Linked DNA regions of Homo sapiens: region 1 is linked to region 2. Evidence: fine-mapped expression QTL. A gene starts in region 2. The other region holds a variant in brackets. All regions are shown on one strand. Distances are between the middles of the regions.

Region 1 (10,854 bases), 23 kb after region 2:
AAGTATGAATACACATGGATAAATAAATTTGTTTCTCCTGAGTGAGTTTTTTTACAGCCAGGCTTTAGAAATTAGTTCAGAGTTTTAAAAGATGAACAAACAATTCCTATGGGCAAATAAGTAACTGAAATATTTCTGCCAATTTCTGTTAAATATTATAATCCGCTTAGGTATGGGGAAGTGGGGGTTGGAGGATGAGCTACATTTCTTTCTTTAAGCCACTCTCCTTTCCGATTAGGGGAGACTAATCCCCCTGAGAGTGGAGGCTGTCATCCTTGCTTCGGAATCCTCTGAGTGACTGTAACTTAGCGTCTTGTATGGAGAAGTCACATAGTGCATACCATCTGCTTGTTGCTAGTGATAAATTCATCTATGAAGGTTAGAATTTGACCGACTTCAAGTTTAAAAGGGGGATTATTCTATAAAGCAGGGTAGAGAGAAGCAAAAACAGCAGTGGTGCTTTTTTTTTTTTTTAGCAACTGGACATAGCATCTTAGAAAAATGACCTGGCCTTGCCCTTATTTGGTGCCTTCATGTCTCAGTGGAGCAGGGGAATCCAAGTGTAGTTAGCCAGACAGTTCCCCTGCCATTCTGTGCTCCAGGGGTCTAAGGCTGACACCTAGTTTCACCTGAAAAGGTGATTCAGGTTTCTTAATTCTTTACAGAACAGCTTAGTACTCAGGGCAGGTGTCTACTTGTGGGCTGATCTCCATCTGGTATCTAGGAATTAACACTGTCATCCTTGTGAGAGTCTGGAGTAGAAGTTCAGTTCCTCTTGGTGTGGTCTTTTGCCACGGCAGGTATGATTTATCCATTAGGAATGTCATCCCAAGTGCAAGGGAGAAAATGATTTTGTTCTCCTACCCTATTAAGGCAGTGTCTGAGGGGCAGACTGATCATGTCAGCAAACTTGTCTAGTTCTGCTTCCTCCCGGGCCTGTTGTGAGGACCTGACATACCTGACCATGAAATGATGTGCTCTTGAATCTGAGGAAGTGTTGGGGGTCAGCAAGCTTTGAGAGGAGGGTTAGGCCCTTCTCATGTTAACCTCTACTGGCCAGAACCAGACTGACCAGTAGTCTTCTGAGTTAGTTAAGTAGCTCTTGGATGTGATTTCCTTCCACCCAAAAAATATGGGCAAAGCCCCCCAGAGGGAAGGTCAAAAGGATGCAGTGGGGTAATATTTCTAGCTGTATGAAGGGGTCTCCAGGCCTCCGCTGCCCTAGCCTGGTGATGCCAGCAGCAAAGAGCAAGGAACCAAAGGGCAGCCTTCCCCACGGCCTGCCTGCCAGTCACCAGTTTGAGCCAGAAAGCAGTGGAGGGGGACGACAGAATTATACTGTTGTTAATATTGTCTATATGTGAAAACTAATCTTGGGATAATATAATATTCCTTGCCCAACCCCATCCCCACCACCCAAGCAATTGAATTCTTTAAAAAACAGCTTCACAGAAAATATGGGGAAGACCAGCTTTTATAGGGCTTGCTCAACAATTTTGAGATGTGCACAGTAAGAGAACTTTAGTTCTGATCCCTTTGACAGCGGAACAGGGGGCATGGAAAACAGCGTATTTCTGGTTCAGGAAATACCCTTCATTTTATGCATGACAGCATTGATGATGAATAGAGACGGAGACTTTTAGTCTTGAATATTTCACTTGCTTTGAGCAAAAGTAGTTAAGAACACAGTTTAAGCCCAGGAAAATGGAGTAGTTAAGTACTCATAGAGGGTTGAAGCAATAGAAGTTTTGAGAAGGCCCAATGGCTCAATGCATTTCTTTCTTTGCAGTATGCCACCACGGGCTGTTCCCTGACCCTGCACCATACGGAGAAACCAGAACATGAAGACATATGTGAATACCGTCCCTACTCCTGCCCATGTCCTGGTGCTTCCTGCAAGTGGCAGGGGTCCCTGGAAGCTGTGATGTCCCATCTCATGCACGCCCACAAGAGCATTACCACCCTTCAGGGAGAAGACATCGTCTTTCTAGCTACAGACATTAACTTGCCAGGGGCTGTCGACTGGGTGATGATGCAGTCATGTTTTGGCCATCACTTCATGCTGGTGCTGGAGAAACAAGAGAAGTACGAAGGCCACCAGCAGTTTTTTGCCATCGTCCTGCTCATTGGCACCCGCAAGCAAGCCGAGAACTTTGCCTACAGACTGGAGTTGAATGGGAACCGGCGGAGATTGACCTGGGAGGCCACGCCCCGTTCGATTCATGACGGTGTGGCTGCGGCCATCATGAACAGCGACTGCCTTGTTTTCGACACAGCCATAGCACATCTTTTTGCAGATAATGGGAACCTTGGAATCAATGTTACTATTTCTACATGTTGTCCATGATGTGACTTTCGTAAACCTTCAAAATTATTTGGGCATAGTGCTCTATGTTTAATAAAGGTTTTTATAGATGTTTTATTCCATATGTCTTCACAAGTCAGGACCCACAATTACCCGTGTTTTGTTTGAACAGCAGTGTCCCATCTGGCTTCGACCCAACAAAGTTCATTAACCTGGGATGAATGGGGTTGGCCTGTTGGTGATTTGGATGCTGTTCTGTGATCTAAAACAACTCTTATTGAATTGTATTTACTCCCTAAACAACACTTGACAGGCTGTTGCACAGGGCTTCTATAGATCAGTGTGTTAGGAATGGGAGGCCCCTTCCTGCCTGCCTTCCCATATTGGTCCCTTGACATTGACAAAAGCACAGTGACTGTCAGCAGATTCCTTTACTTTTGTTTGTGGGAGGTAGGAATTGTTTTAATGCATTTTAAACAGTGTTTCTGAAATTGGATGGCTGGCTAATAGACACTGAATCACCCGGAGTGCTTATCTTAAAATTGCAGATTTAGGGAGCCTGCCAATTTAACAGTCTCATCAGGTGATTCTTTTCAACAGTAATGTTTGAGAATTACTGGGTTAAATTGTGGGAAAGGGTCCAGATTTTAAAGGTGCTTTAAGGTTGCCCTCTGCCGATACTGTTTGTCTTTCTACTGTTTCATCCCCTAACTTCCCCCAACCCTCAAATTAAAACTAGAACTATAGATCCACATGAACGCACGCCTGAGATTTGGCCACTCACCTATGTTTTGGGTGGATTGCCTAGGAAAGCAAGTCATATGGCCATTGATAGTTCTCATGTAATTAGTTTTGCTCACCACTAGTACAGATGACCCGTTTACACGTGGCTTCCCTCGGAAGCCCTCCTCAACAGTAGCTGGTGTGAAAGACTAAATCAGTAGAGTTGGAAAAGCTTTATAACCGGTGTGTCATATGCTTGCTATTTAAAGCTGTGTGTTGGTTTTGTTTTTCTGCCACATTCACTAGTTTTTTAATAAATATTTTCCAAAAATGGATATTGTGCTTCATTTCCCTAATTGAGTAATGGGTATTTATTGAGCATCTACTGTGTGCAAGTGCAATGAACCTTCGTCACTACATCTGGGGTTGGAACTTTCACTGTTTGTTTCCACTGTGGAAACAGTCATTGGGCCAAGGTCATGGCACGGGTCCATGACAGCACTGGGGTCCGGGCTCATGTGTCTGAACCACTGACTGTCAGTGCTGCAGGTCTCCTCCCAGGGCTGTCGTTTCTATCTGACAGTGCCAGTACCTGTGCAATAAGAGGATTGCTCCAGCTTTACAGAGTCAGAAGGAAGACGCTTGGCCACTGCTGACATCCAGAGTGCTGGCGTTGATCCAAGCTGACCCACTCCCTCAGTCCCAACCCTAAACTCTCAAAAGAATTTAGAGGATTAGGGCCAAATGCTCAGCAAGGATTGAAGGCTGCTTACCTCAGTGTCCCAATTTCTTTCTTTTTTTTTTTTTTTTTTTTTGAGACAGAGGCTGGAGTGCAATGGCACTCACTGCAATCTCTGCCTCTAGGTTCAAACAATTCTCCTGCCTCAGCCTCCCAAGTAAGTGGGACTAGAGGCCTATGCCACCACACCCAGCTAATCTTTGTATTTTTAGTAGAGATGAGGCCAGACTGGTCTCGAACTCCTGACCTCAAGTGATCCACTTGCCTCGGCCTCCCAAAGTGCTGGGATTAAGGCATGAGCCACCACACCCAGCCCTCAGTGTCCCAATTTCATTAGCATACTACCAAATGGAGGTGATGGCTTTGGAGTTGATTTTGTTTTTTAAGTGAGATACAGCGTTGAGTTTTTAGCCAGCACAGGGCTCTGACATTTAAAGAATTGCTAAAGTAACCTCTTCTGTAAAAGTGAAAAACGGTGCCCTACACAAAAGTAGGGGTTTACAACATCTGTGGTGAATGAATAAAAACCACAACTCTTATCACTAAGAAAGTCACATTTCAAGTCCATATACAGAGGAACCTATGAAGGTGAAACTAGGATCCAGGAGCAGATGAACTCTGACCCTCAGGACCAGAGCCAGTCCAGATATGGCCTCCAGGGCCCTCACGGCACCCATGCAAGGTGCAGTGTGCATACACTAGCCAAGCTTGGCAGCATCACTTCATGTCCACGGCTTACCCTCTTACTACGTGTGGTAGAGGAATCAGGACTGATTGGTTAACAGTGCATAAAACGCAAACCTATAAACAAAAGACATAAAGAAGGAGAAAGTGGACACAAGTTATTCCAAAAGCACAAAAAGAGTTTTAGCCCAAAAAGGTAAAGTGATGGGCCAGCAGCCACACAGTGCATTACTGGCAGCACTGGTTCTATAATTCAGGCTTCTTGATTCCCCATTCAAACTTGCTCCTAGAACTTAACAAATGAAAAAGTTGTAAGCAACGCAACTCTGAACTTTTATTTTCCAGAGTTACGTAGTTCCCTTTCATCTCTGTCACTGGAAATCTGTAAACTTAACCTTTACTCTTGACTTTCTTGAAACTGTGCATTTTCTACCAGAAAATAAAAATCCCCAGGTTATTCCGTTTTAACAGGAAGTGAAAACAGCAGAAAAAGATTATGTAAATTAAAATGCCTTTTTATGCAGTTCCAATTGCAAATGCAATTTAAAACATGATGAGTATATTCCTTGACTTGTTGCTTTTAAAAAAAGTGAGAAAAAAAAAGAAAAGTAATGATAGGCATTTGTCAAAACTCATCACGTGGTCCACTTAAGTACCATATTTTAAAAAATAAAATAAGAATATTTTATCTTTCCTGTCCTAGTTCAATATTCTAATTTGGTAATCTGGCGATTAAACGATGGTAGATTAAGCCTGTGTCTTATGACGCATGAGTCATTCTAAAGAAAAAAGGGTTCTCAAAATACCTTGGGAGAAAATGTTAACAGTCATTAATTCTGGGTGCCTAGAACCTGGGTATATGGTATATTATTAATTGCATTGTTCTACGTTTTTAATTTTTTTCAAAAAACCAACCAACCTTGAGATTAGGGGTTCCCAGCGTTCTTGTAAGGAGGAACTGGTCTTGGTTTCCCTGAATCCAGAAGACTTAAAGGATTGAGACAGTGGAGTTCTTAGAGGGAACTGTCCAGGGGATTATGGGAAATACTTCGGAGAAGAGGCACCGAAGCATCAACTATCTTGGAACTCTGCCAACTAGAACCTCGGCCTCAACTGACACATCCAAACTAATGGCTGAGTGTCTTTTTTAGCAGCATCAAGCAACTCCTTTACAATACCACCCAAAGTAATTTTCCT[G/A]AAGAAATTCTCCTTGTATCTAACTTCATTCAGGTTCTTGGGGCTTGCCAAATAGCCAGCAATGTGACCTTAACTTGGTCAGTTGACATCTCTGGTCTTAAGTTTCCTAATCTGCAACATTTGAAGGTTTATTTTCTAAACGTTTTTACTTTAGTACTAATTTCTGTGAGACAATCAAGCTATTCAATGTTAGGTTGAGGTATGTAAATCATTCCTGCCAGCCTTTGTACGAGGTGGTTCTGGTATCACTGTGGCCCAGCATGTGTCTGTCTATCAGTGTTGGCAGGTGAGTCATGCTCCAGCTACCTCTCAGATTCCCATGGTTTAGAGCTAGGGGTGGTGCCTGGGTAGAGAGACCAGTTTTGCTTTGTGGCTCTGGCTTGAGAGGCCTGTGGCCTTGAACCTTCCTGATTCATGCAGGCTGTGCTTGAAAGTATGATTATAATTTCACTGACCTGTGAAAGGGAGGCAAGAGTGCTTAAAGGGAGAAATCTAATTCCCCATATTGTTAAACCTTCTTCTAATTTGAAGCTTAAAATCTCTTATTTGTGAATACCGTTAATGTGTCTTGGAGTCTTCAAATGACAAGCAGAAAGAACCTTGATCCCATTGACACCAACACCCACCACCACTACCATTTTACAGAATAAACAAGTAAGACCTACAGAGGGAAACACACTGGCCCCAAACCACACTGCTGATTAGAATTTTCTGTGATGATGACATGGTGTCTTCTGTATTGAGTAAAAGGGAAAAAATTACAAAACAGCTTAAAGTACAAGCCAACATTTTACCATGACTAAGGGAAGTGGCTCCCAGTCTTGATTCCCCATTTCCATTGCCACCATCTGGGCCAGGACCACTGTTGGGGCTCCTAACTGTTTGTCCTCCTTCTTCCTGCCTGCTCCAATGTATTCTACACATAGGCAGAGGCTCTTTTGACATGAAAATCATTGGCATCACAGCTCTTCAATATTCTCTTGCGGTGCACCCTATTTCTTTTCCTTCATGGCACCACAATTGTGATTACATATTTTTTTTTATTGTTCAGCGCCTGCCTCCCCTTGACAACCTGCAGGGTAATAGAGACAATGAAGTCCCTGGCACCTAGGCACCCAATTAATATCTGAATGAATAAATAACTACTAACAGGCTAGTGTGAGAGCAGCATTGAAGTCAACACTTTAAGAGTTAAGGTTTTCTGGTTTTGTACCAAAAGTCCCTGGGGAAATTACGCAAGTAGGCAGGGAACAGAGATGGGGAGATAATCTAACAATCCAGAGAAGGGAAGAAACAAAGGGTTTCTCTGCCCCTGTCATCCTCCAGGCAAGGTCACTAAGGCTGGTTTGAAGTTTCTGTGCCTTGAAATTTCTTATGTCATGGAGTCACCTGACATTCAGATCAAAGGCCGACTCCGCTCTATGTTTGATGATCCTTGCAGCAAGCACAGATCAAGGTTCCTGTGACCTGCAGCAATTGGATTACAAGATTAGATCAATTTGCAAAGTACACCAAGATCACAGCAGTTGCCATCCATTAGGTACCTATCGTGTGCAAAGTGCTTTGTCTGTATTAACCCATTTAATCCTCTCAATAAAATAAGCAGTGTTTATTATCCCCATTTTGGAGTCGAGGAAATGAAGGCTCAGAGAGATTAAGTAATTTGCCTACACTCACACAGCTGGTAAGAAACAGAATTGGAATATGAACCCATCGTGGAGTCCATGCCCCTTCACCATATCACGTGATCCATCATTATTCTTATTTGGCTTTCACATATTTTGACCATCAGCAGAAATATTGCTTACTTGTAACAGATAAAGATGAACAAGATGGAGGGGTGCAGGATGCTTGGTGAATACAGAACATACCACCTGTGCTTTGGAACTGCCTTCCCCACTGTCATGGCATGCTAGAAGGGGATGGAGACCTAGAAATCGTTCAGACCCTCACTAGTTAAAGTGTGGTCCGTGCACCAGCGGCATCAGCATCACCTGGGAACTTGTCAGAAATGCAGCATCTCAGCCTCCACCCCAGACCTCCTGACCAGAATCCGCATTTTAACACAGTATGCAGGTGATGTGGATGCATGTTCAAGTTTGGGAAGCACTGGTTGGATCAAAGGTTATCACCCCACACGTCCTTTGGAATCATGTGGGGAACTTTAAAGAATGCCAGGACCTAAGTTAGAATTCTTGGCAGTAAGGCTGAGCTTCTGTGTGCTTTTTAAAGCTTCCCAGAAGGGACCAGCACACAGTCAGGGTTGAGAACCTCTGACCCAGTCCAACCTCACTGCCTCATTTTCTCTTGTATTTCTCATACAGCCGCTGAGACAAGTGATGTCACCTGCCAATACTGTAGATTGAATAACCAGGGAAGGCTGAGGAATGCAAGTGAATGTAAAAACCACCTGGAGGGAAGCATTGCAGCAAGAAAGGAACAGCAAGTGCAGAGGCCTGAGGCAGAACCAGCAGGGAAAATGCTTTGAGGTGAGGCAGGTAAGGAGCTAGAGCCTTGCCCTGTGAGGCCAGCTAGGGGTCTGGCTTTCTTTCCAGGTACAATGGGAGGCCACTGGAAAGTTTCAAGGAGCATGGATGATGGGATTCGGGTTTTTAAAAAGAGCTGTAGCTGTTCAATTAAAACAAAACAAAACAACAAAAACAATGATTATAAAGGGCAGGAATGGAAGCATTTTGGAAGCTATTGCATTTCACCCAGTGAAAGATAATTATGGCTTGGACAGAGTGAGCAAAGGTAGAGATTAACAGAAATGGGCATATTTGGGCTATGTTTTCAAGGTAGAGTTAACAGGAGTTGCTAAAAAGTTGGATGGGTGGGAGAGGGGTGATGATTATAGGAATAAGGAAAAGAGAGAATCAAGGATGATCACTCCTAGGCTCTCATCCTGAGTAAATGGGTAAGAAGTTCCATGTATTGGGGCAGAGACTAGTGAAGGAGCCAGCATAGGGCAGAAATCTAGAGAGACACATGGCTGAAGACATCAACCAGACAGTTGTTTGTATGAGCTTGGAGCTCTGAGGAAAGGCCAGGATGGAAATACCAAAATGTGTGCACCATCACTATATGTATGGTGTTTAAGCTGTGGGGTGGAAGTGAGAAGACCCCGGGGTTTGGGCAATGGAGGGAGGTGCATACAGGCAGAAAAGAGGGTGGGACTCAGGCCTATCTCCTGGGACTGCCAACCTTTTAGAGGTCACATGAGGAGCCAGAGCCTGGAAATGAGGGTGGATAGAAGAAGTGGCCATCAAGATGAGGGGAACTCCTAGACAGTACGGCATCACAGAACCCCAGGAAAAAAATCTGGCTCAAGTAGAACAGAGGAGTTAGCCACTGAGAAGACAATCGAGGTCATGGCAAGATGTCAAGAGCAGTCTCATGGAGTGGAGAAGACAGAAGCCCAGAGGAGAGCAGGTGAGGGAGAGAACAGGGCATGGGTGAGGAGAGGAGGCAGGAGCTATAGCTATAGAGCTATAGACAAGTTGCTATAGACAAGGCTTTTAAGAAGTTCCGCAGAGAAGACGTAGAGAAATGAAGCAGTTGCTGCAGGAGAATAGTGGGATCAATGAAAGATTTTTTTGTGTTTTAAAAATTGGAGCCACTAGAGCATGGCACTGTGCCAATGGGAAGGATCCAAAAGAGAGAGCGAAATGGATGATGTGGAGAAGGAGGCAATCACAGCGGGGGCAAAGTAATCAGAAAGACAAGTTTCCAGGGCAGATTACTTACTTATGCAGTAGAGATGGTCAGGAAGCAGCCATTATTGAAATAGAGAGAGGTGGGAAAAAAATTGTGCCAACAAGCAAGGGTTGAAGCAAATTATGTTTAGAAGGCCCTGGTGAGGGCGTCTGTGCATATCCAGCCCTGAACAGGAGAAAGGCACTGGCTGCAGCTCAGTCTAGAACATCCCAGGCATCTGAGAGGTTTACACCTTAGCAAGCTGTGGTGTTTTTCTAGGTTCCATGAAAACCTGGAAGAAATATTCCTGAGGACCATCCAACACCATTTCCCTGAGAGACAAGCTGTAAGTGCTGTTCTAGTTACAGATCCGAGTCCCTGGTACATTGATATCAAGTAAGGGTGCATGCAGCTCAGAAGGCAGTTTCCATTACACTGGACAAGAGTGTGGCTGCCTGAGTCCTAGAACTGCAGTGGCTTCTGCTGACAATGTGAGGAGTAGCTGCCCTGTCCAGAGTGTGGCCCCGCACGCTGCCCCCTCCCCTGGAGGGACTGAAGAGAACAGCTTGGAGCATGCCCTTCCCTTTCCCTTATCTCGCCCACTATGCTAATGCTGCTCATCCCTCAAGATCCGAGTTATTCCTCCTCAATTCAATACACACCAATCAACTGCCCTGTGCTTGGTCCTGTACTTTATATCCTTGATATGGTTTAATTTTCAAAACAAAACACCTTGAGGTGGGTATTATCACTCCCATTAACAAACAAGAAGGTGGGGGCTCAGAGAGGCTAAGTAACTTGCCCAAAGTCACACAGCTTGTAAGCAGTGAAAATGGGATTTACACTCAGGAATGTAGCCCTTCCAACAGCCCTGCTGCCTGCAAAAGTGACTCAGATATGGACTTTACAGTCTAGCAGAAGTCTGAAAGCATCAAACAAAGAGGCAACTTACAGTAGCATGAAATATGCAACCACAACTACATCAACTATGTTTGCAAAGCAAGTTAAGACAAGGACGTACAAATTGCTATGGAGTTCAAAAGAGGATTGGAAAAGGCTTCCGGGAGAAAGCAGCGCGTGCATTGGGCCTTGGGTGTTGGGTAGGTTTTTGCAAGGCTGAGGTAGTTAGGAGGATGTGCCAAGAGATCAGCCTCTCCTGGATCAAGACCAAACCACTCAATGCCTAAGTCCAGCCTTGTCCACCTCCCATCCACTTCTCAGGGCTATTCTTCTCTCACACTTCCTTTGTTCCCGCGTTCCTGACACCCACACAAGGTCAGACACGTAGAACGTGCCGAGTGAATATCAAAGTTCAGCAGTGTCTTGTCTGGTCCCTAATTCTAATCTATCCTTTAACCCATCCTCATACTAGCTAAATTTCAGGACGAACCCTGTCCACAATAAAAACTACTTCTTCTAGAGAATTTGCCCTGCCCATAGTTCCTGGAACACCCCATGCAAACCCCCCACTAATTCACACACCCACAAACTTGTAATGCAGGCCACAGCT
Region 2 (10,854 bases):
GCTTCCTTCCTATCTCTGCTACGTAAGGACACAGTGAGAAGGCTGCCATCTACAAACCAGGAAGCAAGCCATCGCTAGACACCTGTGGCACCTTGACCTTGGTCTCCCCGTCCTCCACAACTGTGAGAAATAAATGTTTGTTATTTAAACCACCCAGTTTATGATATTTTATTATAGCAGCTCGAGCTAAGACAGCAAGCGAGAGGAACGGAGGGACAGTAAGACAGAATTCATAGTCTTTTTTAACCTAATCTCAGAAGTGACATTCTATCACTTTGACCATATTCTGTTCACTTAAAGCAGGATCAGCCCTCATTCACAGGAAAGGTGTTACATATTGGGCGACACCAGGAGGAGGGATCCCTGGGAGCCTTCTTAATGATGACTTCCTACAACTCTCTTGGCCTCTCTGTACCTGTTTTGTCATCTATAAAGATCTACCCTATAAAAGACATTGTGAGAATTAAGAGAATTAAAATATGTAAAGTACTTGGAACACTCCCTGGTACAGGGTGAGCACTAATTAGCTAAGTGTGGATACAAAAATAATGCAAATACATAGAACTGCTCTTAGTACACAGTGCTAAGTCCATGATGGTTGTTCAAAAAAATGCTTGAATTAGGAGTACTTGAGTATAGGAGTTTGAGGCCAGCCTCGGCAACACAGTGAGACCTCTTCTCTACAAAAACTAAAAAACTAGCAGGGCGTGATGGCACGTGCCTGTAGTCCCAGCTACTCAGGAGGATCCTTTGAGCCTGGGAGGTTGAGGCTGCAGTCAGCCATGATCCAGCCACTGCATTAAGCCTAGGTGACAGAGTGAGACCCTGTCTCAAAAAAAAAAAAAAAGATTTGAATTAAGAGACCTACAATTATTCAAAAGAAGTTTGAGCATTTGGAAATTACCCCAGAAACAGATGAAGTTAAAAGTTCCTACTATAATTACCAGGGGGCCTTACATCACCTCCAGATTTCCCACAAGCTTCCCCTGATGAGGAATTTCCATGCAGCAAGCTCCAATGCATACCTGAGTCATCTCTAAAAAGCCAACCACAATTTGCTCTGCAAATGCACATTTGCCTGATGGCAGAAGTTGCCTGATTTGCAAAACCACACAATTTGTAAGTTACAGAAAAAAGGGCAAGAGCTTGTCTGCCTAGCTGGAGCATTTCTCACTGTGCTCAGCAGTTTAGTGAAATTAGGAACTCACCTGTGAGGTGTTTTTTTTAAGACTCACCCTGCTATTTTAAGGAAAGAAAAGGCTACTCAGTACACCCCTAGTCTTTCAAGCTTAGCATAGAGCAGATGGGTTAAGGAGAGGTGTCCTGCTTGACATATGCAATCTGGGACTCAGTAGGTGGGCGAATGAGACCAACCTCTCATACAGTAGATGTGGTAAATGAGTCATGAATCAGGAGATAACAAAAGGCTGGACCCTGCTCCCCCAGACCACAAAGTCACTCACTAAACAGGCCAAGAAGCAGCAGCGACACTCCAAAGGGTAAATAAACCTCCCAACAACTCAACTCAGCACACATTTTGAGTACACGCTAAATTCGACCTCTGAGCGGACTGCCCGCTGGAAGAGGAGGCTCTAGCTCATAGTGCCCGGTATGCAAAGGTCACCTTTCTTTGTTTCAAAAGTCACCAAGGAAGGAGGAAGAAGAAAGGCGACTGGGAAGACCAGCCTGGTCATTGATGTGGCTCACATAGCAGACCTATCCACTCTCCCCCTGCCTACCTTCAGCAACTGCCCAGAGTTTTTTTGTTTTGCTTTTGTATTTTAATTACCCTGGTTGACTTAATCAGGTGTGCAATGATGTGAAGGAGGAAGAAAGAAGAAATTTCTCTATACCAGGGGAGGCATCTGCCAGGGTAAGAGTGGATGGGTTCGCTGTATTTTTAGAAAAATAAACCAAATTCTCTCTGCAGAGAATTGCTTTTCCTGTTATTTCTTTCAACACCTCCCAAACCAAATTGTTTTCTGAATGACCAGGGCCTATCTAGCTGGAACACTTAAAGCTCGTGTCAATGGGGCAAGGGTGAGGACTCCAGTCTCCTAATGAGAGCTAGTAAGAAGCCGTGGGGATGGAGGTCATCACACAGAGAGGCTAGAAGTGGAAGGAAAGAAAATGTGTTCCATTAATAAATTCCAAATGCTTTGATTTTAAATTAAGAATGAAAAATATTACATTTCCTCCAATAACAGTAAAACAGTAGGTGATTTTTGTGTTATCACTTATATTTTGTGTCATAAAAAGGTGAAAATGAAATAAATAGAACATGATTTAATTTTTCTCTCTAGACCAGCTAAGGAAAGAGTTTATGTAAAGTTTGCCCACAAAATTTAGTGCTTTATTATAGGCTGAACAACTGTTTTCTGACTCTGTTGAGTGTGCTAATCTTAACTGTTTAACAAGACTGTAAGTAGGAATCAGGCATAATTTAGAGGCATACAGACTAGTAGTTAAGAAGGGCTCCTAGCGTGTTCCCACATTCTCAGCTGTGTGATCTTGAGCAAAGTAACCTATGTCTCGGTTTCCTCAACTGTAAAATGGAGATAACAGTAGTATTCATCACAGAGAGTTATGATAAATACTTAAAACTATCCATGCCCAACATACAGTGGGCACTCAATTAACATTAGTTATTATTTTATGCTCCCTACCTATCCAAAAACTCAGGTTCAGCCATGTTACTAAAGAGCTTCCAAAAACCTACAAAACCTAGTGTTGTTGTGTGTTCTTAAAAAAACAAACAAAACCCTACAGTGGTTTACCCCTATCATTGAGGTAAATGTCTTATTAAGCCAGTTGAGGCTCCCCTTGTGCTAACGCCACACCCCTACACTCCCGTTATATCCCCTCCAAGTCCCAATGCAATCCCAGAATACATGCTTTCACTCTGTGCTTTTTAGCTCCTGCTATAATGCCTGCCCACCCCGTGGTATCTGAAATCCTTCTTCTCCCACGAGTGCTTGGTTATTGGGCCTTGCTCTCTTACTAGAATGTAAACTGCATGAGAACCATTCTCAGAGCTCCAACAGTAGCTGACACATGATAAATGCTCAGGAAACATTTACTGAACGATTGAATACACCTATTAAGTTTTTTCAAGATTTATACCAAATTCCATCAATTCCATGCATGTATTCTTTCTACAGAAGCCCTTTGTAAGATTAAACTTTATTTCTTCTGGGCTCTTACGCCATATTTCTTGGACAAATTGTATTCATTCATTTTAAACATCCACTAATATTTTTAAAAGATAAGAGCTAATGTTTAAACAGTGCTTATGATGGGCGAGGTTGTTTTAAAAGCTTGAAATATATTAAACTCATTTACTCCTCACTGCCCCACCTATAAGATAGGTATTTTTTTTTCCACTTTTACAGTTGGAGGGAACCATTTTTCACTCAGTCCTAACAGTTGGTCCTTACCTCTGTGTCTCCTATAAATTTCCGATTTCTACCTAAGGTAACCCTTTCCCCAATTCCGGAATCGTTGGCTCAAGCAAAGTCTGCAGAAAAACAATTTTAACTCGGAGCACACAGTTACATTTGGACATGCGGTTCACCCCGGGCAACCGTGCCCTCTAGCGCTTCTGCTGGGCGCGCAGGGTGGCCCTACGCCTCGCAACAAAGACTCGGACTTCGGCCGGCTCTCTACCAAGCGGACGCAGCGCCTTACACTGGAGTTTCACCCACTGTCTTCAGAGACCTCACGACCCAACCTACGTTTCTGACATTTCTAGATGATCTCGAACTCTTAGCCAACGCTGCCCATGAGCTCCCTCCTCGGCCTGCTATACGAGCCAGGGGCGCTCAATTCAACGAAGCTTCCTCCTGGTCCGCTGGGAAAGGAATAAAGGGAGCTTACATCCTCCCCACCGCCCCCCTCTTTACTCAACCCCACCGTTAACTGTACAAAACTAGGTCCTGTGCCCGCTGCAGACCCAACTCGAGCCCCTCGCCCTGCTCCCACCCAATGCTTCTCGTCCTGACTCCGAACACAGAACGCGGGTGGCCGCTTCGCCCTCTTCTCCTGCGTGCTGGTGACTCAGCCCTGAGAAGAGAAACCTCTCGGTTTTTTCCGACTAGTGCAGGGGCGCCCGCGCCCCGCCCCTGCCCGCCCGCGTCCGGTCCCACCCACCGTCCACGCTCCCGCCCCGCCTGAAGTTGCCTTTCTCGTTTGAGCTGAGGGACGCGTCAGCCAGGCACCCCGGGGTGTGGCCAGAGGACTTCGGCGACGCTTCCCCGAGAGTAGCCCCCCTCCTCAACCCAGAAAAGACAACCCCGCGGGGCTGCAGCGAGCCAGGCATGCTCACTGGCGCAGGCCCGGCCCGCAGCCCGAGCAGGAAGCGCCGGCGCTAGGCGGCCCCCTGCGCTGCCAGCTGGAGCCGGGCGGAGCCAGCGCCCCGGCGCAGGGTGGCTCTGCCAGTCCCCGCGCGCCTGGGCGGCCGCACACGTGTCCAGGCGTCACGTCCGCGCGCGCCCCCGGGGCTTGCGTCAGCGGCTGTTCCAGAAGCGGGTGGGCCAGGGCTCTGCGCACCGCTGGGGTTCGGGGCCCGGGACGCCGCCGGGAGGAGGGCACCGCGCGGGGTCCGACGCGGAGGCGTGCTCGGAACGCCGGGGGCTGCGGAGTGCATCAGCGCGGTCCAGCCCTCCGCCTGCCGGGCGCCGAGCGTCTCCGCCGCCCGGACCTGGGCTGGGCGCCGTGGCGTTGCCTCGGAGCTCGCTGCCCGCGGGGCGCGCACCGCCTTGACCCGGGCGGCCCCGCGGCAGGCAGGCGCCCGCAGTTCCATGGTTGGTTCGGAGCGCGATGAGCCGCCCGTCCTCCACCGGCCCCAGCGCTAATAAACCCTGCAGCAAGCAGCCGCCGCCGCAGCCCCAGCACACTCCGTCCCCGGCTGCGCCCCCGGCCGCCGCCACCATCTCGGCTGCGGGCCCCGGCTCGTCCGCGGTGCCCGCCGCGGCGGCGGTGATCTCGGGCCCCGGCGGCGGCGGCGGGGCCGGCCCGGTGTCCCCGCAGCACCACGAGCTGACCTCGCTCTTCGAGTGTCCGGTCTGCTTTGACTATGTCCTGCCTCCTATTCTGCAGTGCCAGGCCGGGCACCTGGTGTGTAACCAATGCCGCCAGAAGTTGAGCTGCTGCCCGACGTGCAGGGGCGCCCTGACGCCCAGCATCAGGAACCTGGCTATGGAGAAGGTGGCCTCGGCAGTCCTGTTTCCCTGTAAGGTAAGCCCAGGGACAGCCCACGTACCTCCGCCGGTGACCTCAGGGACTCCGGTATCCGCCAGCCCACTCGCAGGCCCGGAGAGGCGGGCGGCATCTCTCATTTAAAAAAAAAAAAGAAAAAATGTTTACACTTCGTCCACCCTCCCTCAAGCCCACTTTGGGTGTAGGTCTGGGTTGACATTTACCGAGTAATAATTGTTAATAGACAATTAACAGATTAATTGGCATTTGCTGATCGTTAGAACATCGTAGCTCACCCGGCCCAATGCCCGCGTCCTCTGCAGACGTGTATTCGGGTACTCTCGGTAGGGCTGGGCCGCACCAGTAAAACTTGGACCGAGAAACTGACTGTGTGGGGATTGAGGAGGGAGGAAACGGGCGAGCTAAACGCCCCCTTTACCAGCGCTGGGCTCGGCTGAATTGATAATTGGAGTCCTGCACCCCGCGCCTACCGTCTGCGCACCCCTGACACGTGGGAGCTCTCGGGATTGTAGCTAAAAAAAGGGCGCCTACAGCCTGTTTTCCTCTAGCTAGAAGAAAACCCTGCAAGCCACGCCTTTTTCTCTCCTAGCCTTCCAAAGACTGGGAAGGACTGAGGAGTTGTGGCTGCGTTGTTGTACTAAGTGGGGTGAAAACAGTCAATCAAGAAATTAACAAGGGCACTCAAGAGCTGTTGTTACAGTTGTTTAAAGCTCATCACTTCATTTTTTATTTAATGTAAAAAGTTTTCAATGCCCTTGCGAAAAATGCAAGCCACCAAGACAAGAAGTAAAATGAAAGACCAAGATCTCTCCCCTCCTTTCCCACCATTGTTAGGTTTAGTGTGTATCTTTTTAAACTATATATACATACACCCTCGCAGCTAAATATAGAATCATAGATGTCAGTGTATGTCAGGGAGGTTTTTTAATACCCACACATAGATGTAAGTTTTTCTCCAAAAATGGCATCTGCAACTTGCTGTTCTTAAATTCATATTATCACACATATTTCTCTATGCCTGAAACCTAGTCGACTTCATTGTATTTTAAATGGCTGCATAGTATTGCATTGTGTGGTCATATTATAACATTTGTTTACCTGCAGCTATTACGTGGAAACCTTCAGGAGCAGTTTCACAGACATACTTGTCTACGTTATAACCTAGAAGTATACTGTAAAGTCATTTTCTGAAATTAGAAGTGGAGATAATGTCACTAATACTTTCCAGTTTTTTTGTAAAAGTAACTTGCGCTGCCTCTTGGGCCATTTAAGCTGTCTTGCATTTCTCCTTGGTGCTGCTTATTTTATAGGACAAGAGCTCATTTTTAAATTAAAAATAATCCACCAGAGAATTCAGGCTTGGGACTCAGGTCAGTAAAATGAGTGCTTTAATTTGGTCTGCTGCCCTGCTGCAAATCAGGTTTAAAATAGCATATTTAAATAAGAGTTTGAATCGGTGTTTGGACTAGGGTGTTTCAGGCAACCTTAATAAATTGCTGTTAACCCCTCCTCATATAGTGCTTACTAATTCACTCAGCCCAGTTTCTCAAAATTTAGATAAAGTATTTGCATAGTTGTCTTAGGGTTGTGAAAAAGGTGACAACCTAGTGGTTGGAAAAGGTTTGGTGGTAGTTAACATAGAGTGGCTATTTGATGCTTGAGATATATTGCAGGGGTGGGGGATGCCCCATAGGATTTCTGGGGAGCCATTTTCTCACCCCTTTACTTTCCCTTAAACGCGCAGCGGCTAACAAAAGAAATGGCTTTTAGGTGAGTTTTAGTTCACAAATGAGCATTTGATATTAGTCAGTAATCCATAATTTGTTTTTAAAATGTAACCATAATAGAATTGTGTTGTTCCCAAGAGAAAGGGAAGGAAACAGTTATGCTATATGGAGCATGAAGTTTCACTTTCAGGATCTAGAACTCTGGTTCCTATGAAAGCATACGTTCTTTCCTAACGTGAAACAGGCTACTGAAATCAACCTTGAAGAGTAGTTCTGGGAATCAGGGGTTCTCAGCCTTTCTGTACATGTCAGTGGTTTTCTGAGTCTCTATTCTATAAGAATGCAGTGGGGTAAAGCTATTACTTTGCAAGCTGAAATTTAAAAGGGCCAATTATTCCCCTGCAGACCAAGAACCAAGCTTAGGATGTGATCTTGGGGATGCTTTTGTGTGTGCATGTGTGTGAGTTGTATAAAGCTGGGGTGTGTGTCCCTCACCTTTGGTTGATCAATAATCCAAACTATTGGCAGGGCAGCTCAGCCAGTTAGTCTGGATAAACCAAACTTGAATGTATACATAGGCCCAGCGACCAACCAAGATGTGTTAGTTGTAGAGGATGAGAAACAACAGAGAGCCGTAAGGCCTGTATCAAACTTAAAACAAGGCAGATCTGTTTACCTAGCCCTTTGGCCTACAGTTTGAGGCTCCTAGAAATTATGGGACTGCCTTTTTACTGTCCCCACCTGCTCTCAGAATCTCTCATGGGCTGGCTCATGTGAAAAAAACCAACGTTGAATAAAGTACCAGAGCCCACATCTCAAGAGCTGCCACTGTTTGCCTGAAAGACCACCTCCCAGGGCCTTGATTTCCTCATCTATACAAATGAGAGATGAATCTGCTTGACTTCTAAGGACCTGTAGCTTCTAGCATTCTATGAAAAGAAGGGAGGCTATCTGGAATGTTATTGGATGCCCTCTATCTGCCAGTTACTTTGCAGGGGTCAGCTTTTACTAGTTTGCCTTTTTTTTTTTTCAGATGAGGAAACTCATGCCTACAGAGTGGTTAAATGTGAAGTGACTTGTCAAATCACACAGCTAGTAAGAGGACCAGTCCAAGCACCTGCATCTCAAAGGCACAGATGTTTTGTCCTACACCTTACTACGTAGGGATTTCGAATCTGAGTGTATACTCAAGATTCTGAATCATAACTCAAGGTTGACACCAGTAACAAAACCGTCTGGTTGGATGAGTTCACCAGATGGGCCTCTTATGGGACCATCCCAAAATGACAACATACATACTCACTATGAAATTCATTGGCAGGAATTTTGTAGGGCATGTAGGGTAGGAAGATGGGAGGGTGGGGGAAACCTACAAACCTAGTATTTTGTGGGGTATCATCACAGCTCTGGACTGCTTCAGTTGGCAAAAAAATGGATGTATTGCCAAATAACTATCCCACTTAGGTTTAGGGTAATTAATTAAAGGCTAGAGTGTTGCCAGCACCTTTGATATGGGGAACCGGATGCATTATTAGCTCAGATCTTTGGGTGTGGTGACTCATGCCTGTAATCCCAGCACTTTGGGAGGCAGAGGTGAGCAGATCACCTGAGGTCAGGAGTTCGAGACCAGCCTGGACAACATAGTGAAACCCTGTCTCTACTAAAAATACAAAAATTAGGGCCAGGCGCAGTGGCTCACGTCTGTAATCCCAGCACTTTGGGAGGCTGAGGTGGGTGGATCACCTGAGGTCAGGAGTTTGAGACCAGCCTGACCAACATGGAGAAACCCCGTTTCTACTAAAAATACAAAAAAGTTAGCTGGGCATGGTGGCACATGCCTGTAATATCAGCTACTCAGGAGACTGAGGCAGGAGAATTGCTTGAACCCGGGAGGCAGAGGTTGCAGTGAGCCAAGATCACGTCATTGCATTCCAGCCTGGGCAACAAGAGTGAAACTCAGTCTCATTAAAAAAAAAAAAAAAAAAAATAGCCAGGTGTGGTGGCAGGCACCTGTAATCCCAGCTACTCAGGAGGCTGCGGCAGGAGAATCGCTTGAACCCAGGAGGTGGAGGTTGCAGTGAGCTGAGATTGTGCCACTGCACTCCAGCCTGGGTGACAGAGCAAGACTCTGTGTCAAAAAAAAAAAAAAAAAAATGGAATGTCTAATAGTGTATGGCTTTCTTCCGCTTGGGGTATTTTTTAATCCATTCTGTGGCTTGTTCCATGCCTGAGAACTTTTGACATCCTGTGCCCAGACTTAAACTCACCCCTTCAGTGTGTGGGTTTAGGGGGAGAAGTGAAGGTTGACACATTCATATCAACAACATAGTCTACTTTACCATCCAACGATGTATTTTGATATCAGCCAAGTATTTCTCTCTACAACTGTGAGCAATGCTAATCCACTCCAGCCTTCTTACACTGTAATGATACCTTTTCTTTGTCCTCTCTGAAAGTTTCTAGTAGCATATCTCCAAATAATTATTGAATTTGAAAGCCTCAGCTGGACAAGTCTTCTCTGTGGTTGAATTGTGACAATGTCTGTGTTCCTTAAAAAAATAAAAAATAACATAAAACCAAGTAAGGTTAGACAAAACAGTTGAAAGTTTAAAATCCCTTGGCCTCATCTAGTTCAGTGGAGACAAACTTTCTAAATGGGAGGAGGGCCATGTAATGAGAGGAGAGGAGAGGAGAGAAGTATTTGATGCACTCATGGCCTCAGGGTCAGGGAGACCTGGAGGAGCAGTGGAGATGGTGGAGAGCCAGAGAACAGGTGCCACCTCCCAAGAGGCAGCCTTTACTCACCTCTGGCTGATTGGTGGGGTTGGGGATGTGGGTACAGGCATATCAGACCTTTAGATTTTTTTCAAGAAAAGCCAGAAATCTGGATCTTTTTTTTTTCCTTTAAGAGATGTCATCTCACTATGTTGCCCAGGCTGGTCTTGATACTCCTGAGCTCAAGCAATCCTCCTATCTCGGCCCCCCAAAGTGCTGGGATTACAAGTGTGAGCCACCGTGCCCAGCCTGGATTTTTTTTTTATGTTAAATATCTCGATTTTTTTTCTAGCATTGGCTGACTTCACATGTATAACCACCACTTGCAGACAAAGCGAACCACCACGTCTCCAGGCCAAATTCCAGCTGCCAGCATGCAGCCTCTGATCTGATTCTCTTGTAGAAGCATTCCTTGAGCCTGGAAGTTCTCATTTAACTCTTGCCATACATGAACTTTGGAACTCTGTTAGGCCCTAACTGTTGGTGATTTTGTAGCTTGTTTTCTTTTCATCTTCATTTTGCCAAGAGAATATTATTTTCTGGCCATCAGGAACCCTCAGATGATGGCCTTGTGACTAGATGTTTGACTCTATACAGGTCAGTTTCTTTTTTGCACCTGAGGGTCTTTAAGAGAAGGGATTGGACTAAATGATTATCCCAAGGTTCTTTCTTACCCTAAAATTTTAAAATATAGTAAGCGGTCCCAGTGAAAAGAACGTGAGCCAGGAAACAGAAGACCTGGGTTCTCGTCCTGGCTTTGTGTGACTTTGGTCCAGTCACATACTTCCCTGACCCTGTTTGTTCATCCATTAGAAAGAACGGAGATGACGCCTAGTTAGTGGGTGCTTGGAAATCAGATTAGAAGTGCTGTTGAGGGCTTTTGCTTCACCATATGGAATGGAATATGGGGGGTATTGGGGTGGTTGGAAGGTTGCAATGGGGGATCACCTGGAAGCAGGAAGCACAAGCCGATTAGCCAAAAATACTTTCAAAAATTTCTTCCTAACCCCCAGAATTCTCCTAACACAAAACTATTTACTTTGGAAGTTGTCCCTGAAGTCCTCACTACTGCCTGACATGGGCAAGGTTGGCCCATAAAAGCACAGAGTGAACTGGCAAGGACCAGAGTCCACAT

Evidence for each region. PIP is the estimated chance that this variant, and not a neighbour inherited with it, causes the effect. A credible set is the group of variants that fine-mapping cannot tell apart.
Region 1: its variant is the best candidate, but not a certain one, in a credible set for the expression of SIAH2 in sun-exposed skin (GTEx, PIP 0.55).

The regions. Positions count from the first base shown.
Region 1 is chr3:150,733,634-150,744,487 of GRCh38, reverse strand. SIAH2 (siah E3 ubiquitin protein ligase 2) reads left to right here. Exons shown (of 2, transcript NM_005067.7): 2 at 1,790-3,363. The coding sequence ends at 2,347. It overlaps LOC101928105 (a long non-coding RNA gene), which reads left to right and starts at 5,503. Exons shown (of 3, transcript NR_121657.1): 1 at 5,503-5,637; 2 at 7,973-8,146; 3 at 9,624-10,017. RefSeq lists a silencer at 3,542-3,621 and a cis regulatory region at 10,491-10,854. The variant G/A (reference allele first, on the strand shown) is at 5,649.
Region 2 is chr3:150,756,814-150,767,667 of GRCh38, reverse strand. SIAH2 (siah E3 ubiquitin protein ligase 2) reads left to right here and starts at 4,499. Exons shown (of 2, transcript NM_005067.7): 1 at 4,499-5,235. The coding sequence starts at 4,819. It overlaps SIAH2-AS1 (SIAH2 and CLRN1 antisense RNA 1), which reads right to left and starts at 5,731. Exons shown (of 3, transcript NR_187306.1): 1 at 5,688-5,731; 2 at 5,261-5,329. It overlaps LOC124909447 (a long non-coding RNA gene), which reads left to right. Exons shown (of 2, transcript XR_007096132.1): 2 at 28-152. RefSeq lists enhancers at 3,504-3,563, 4,082-5,028, 6,845-6,944, 8,179-8,238 and a silencer at 4,074-4,973.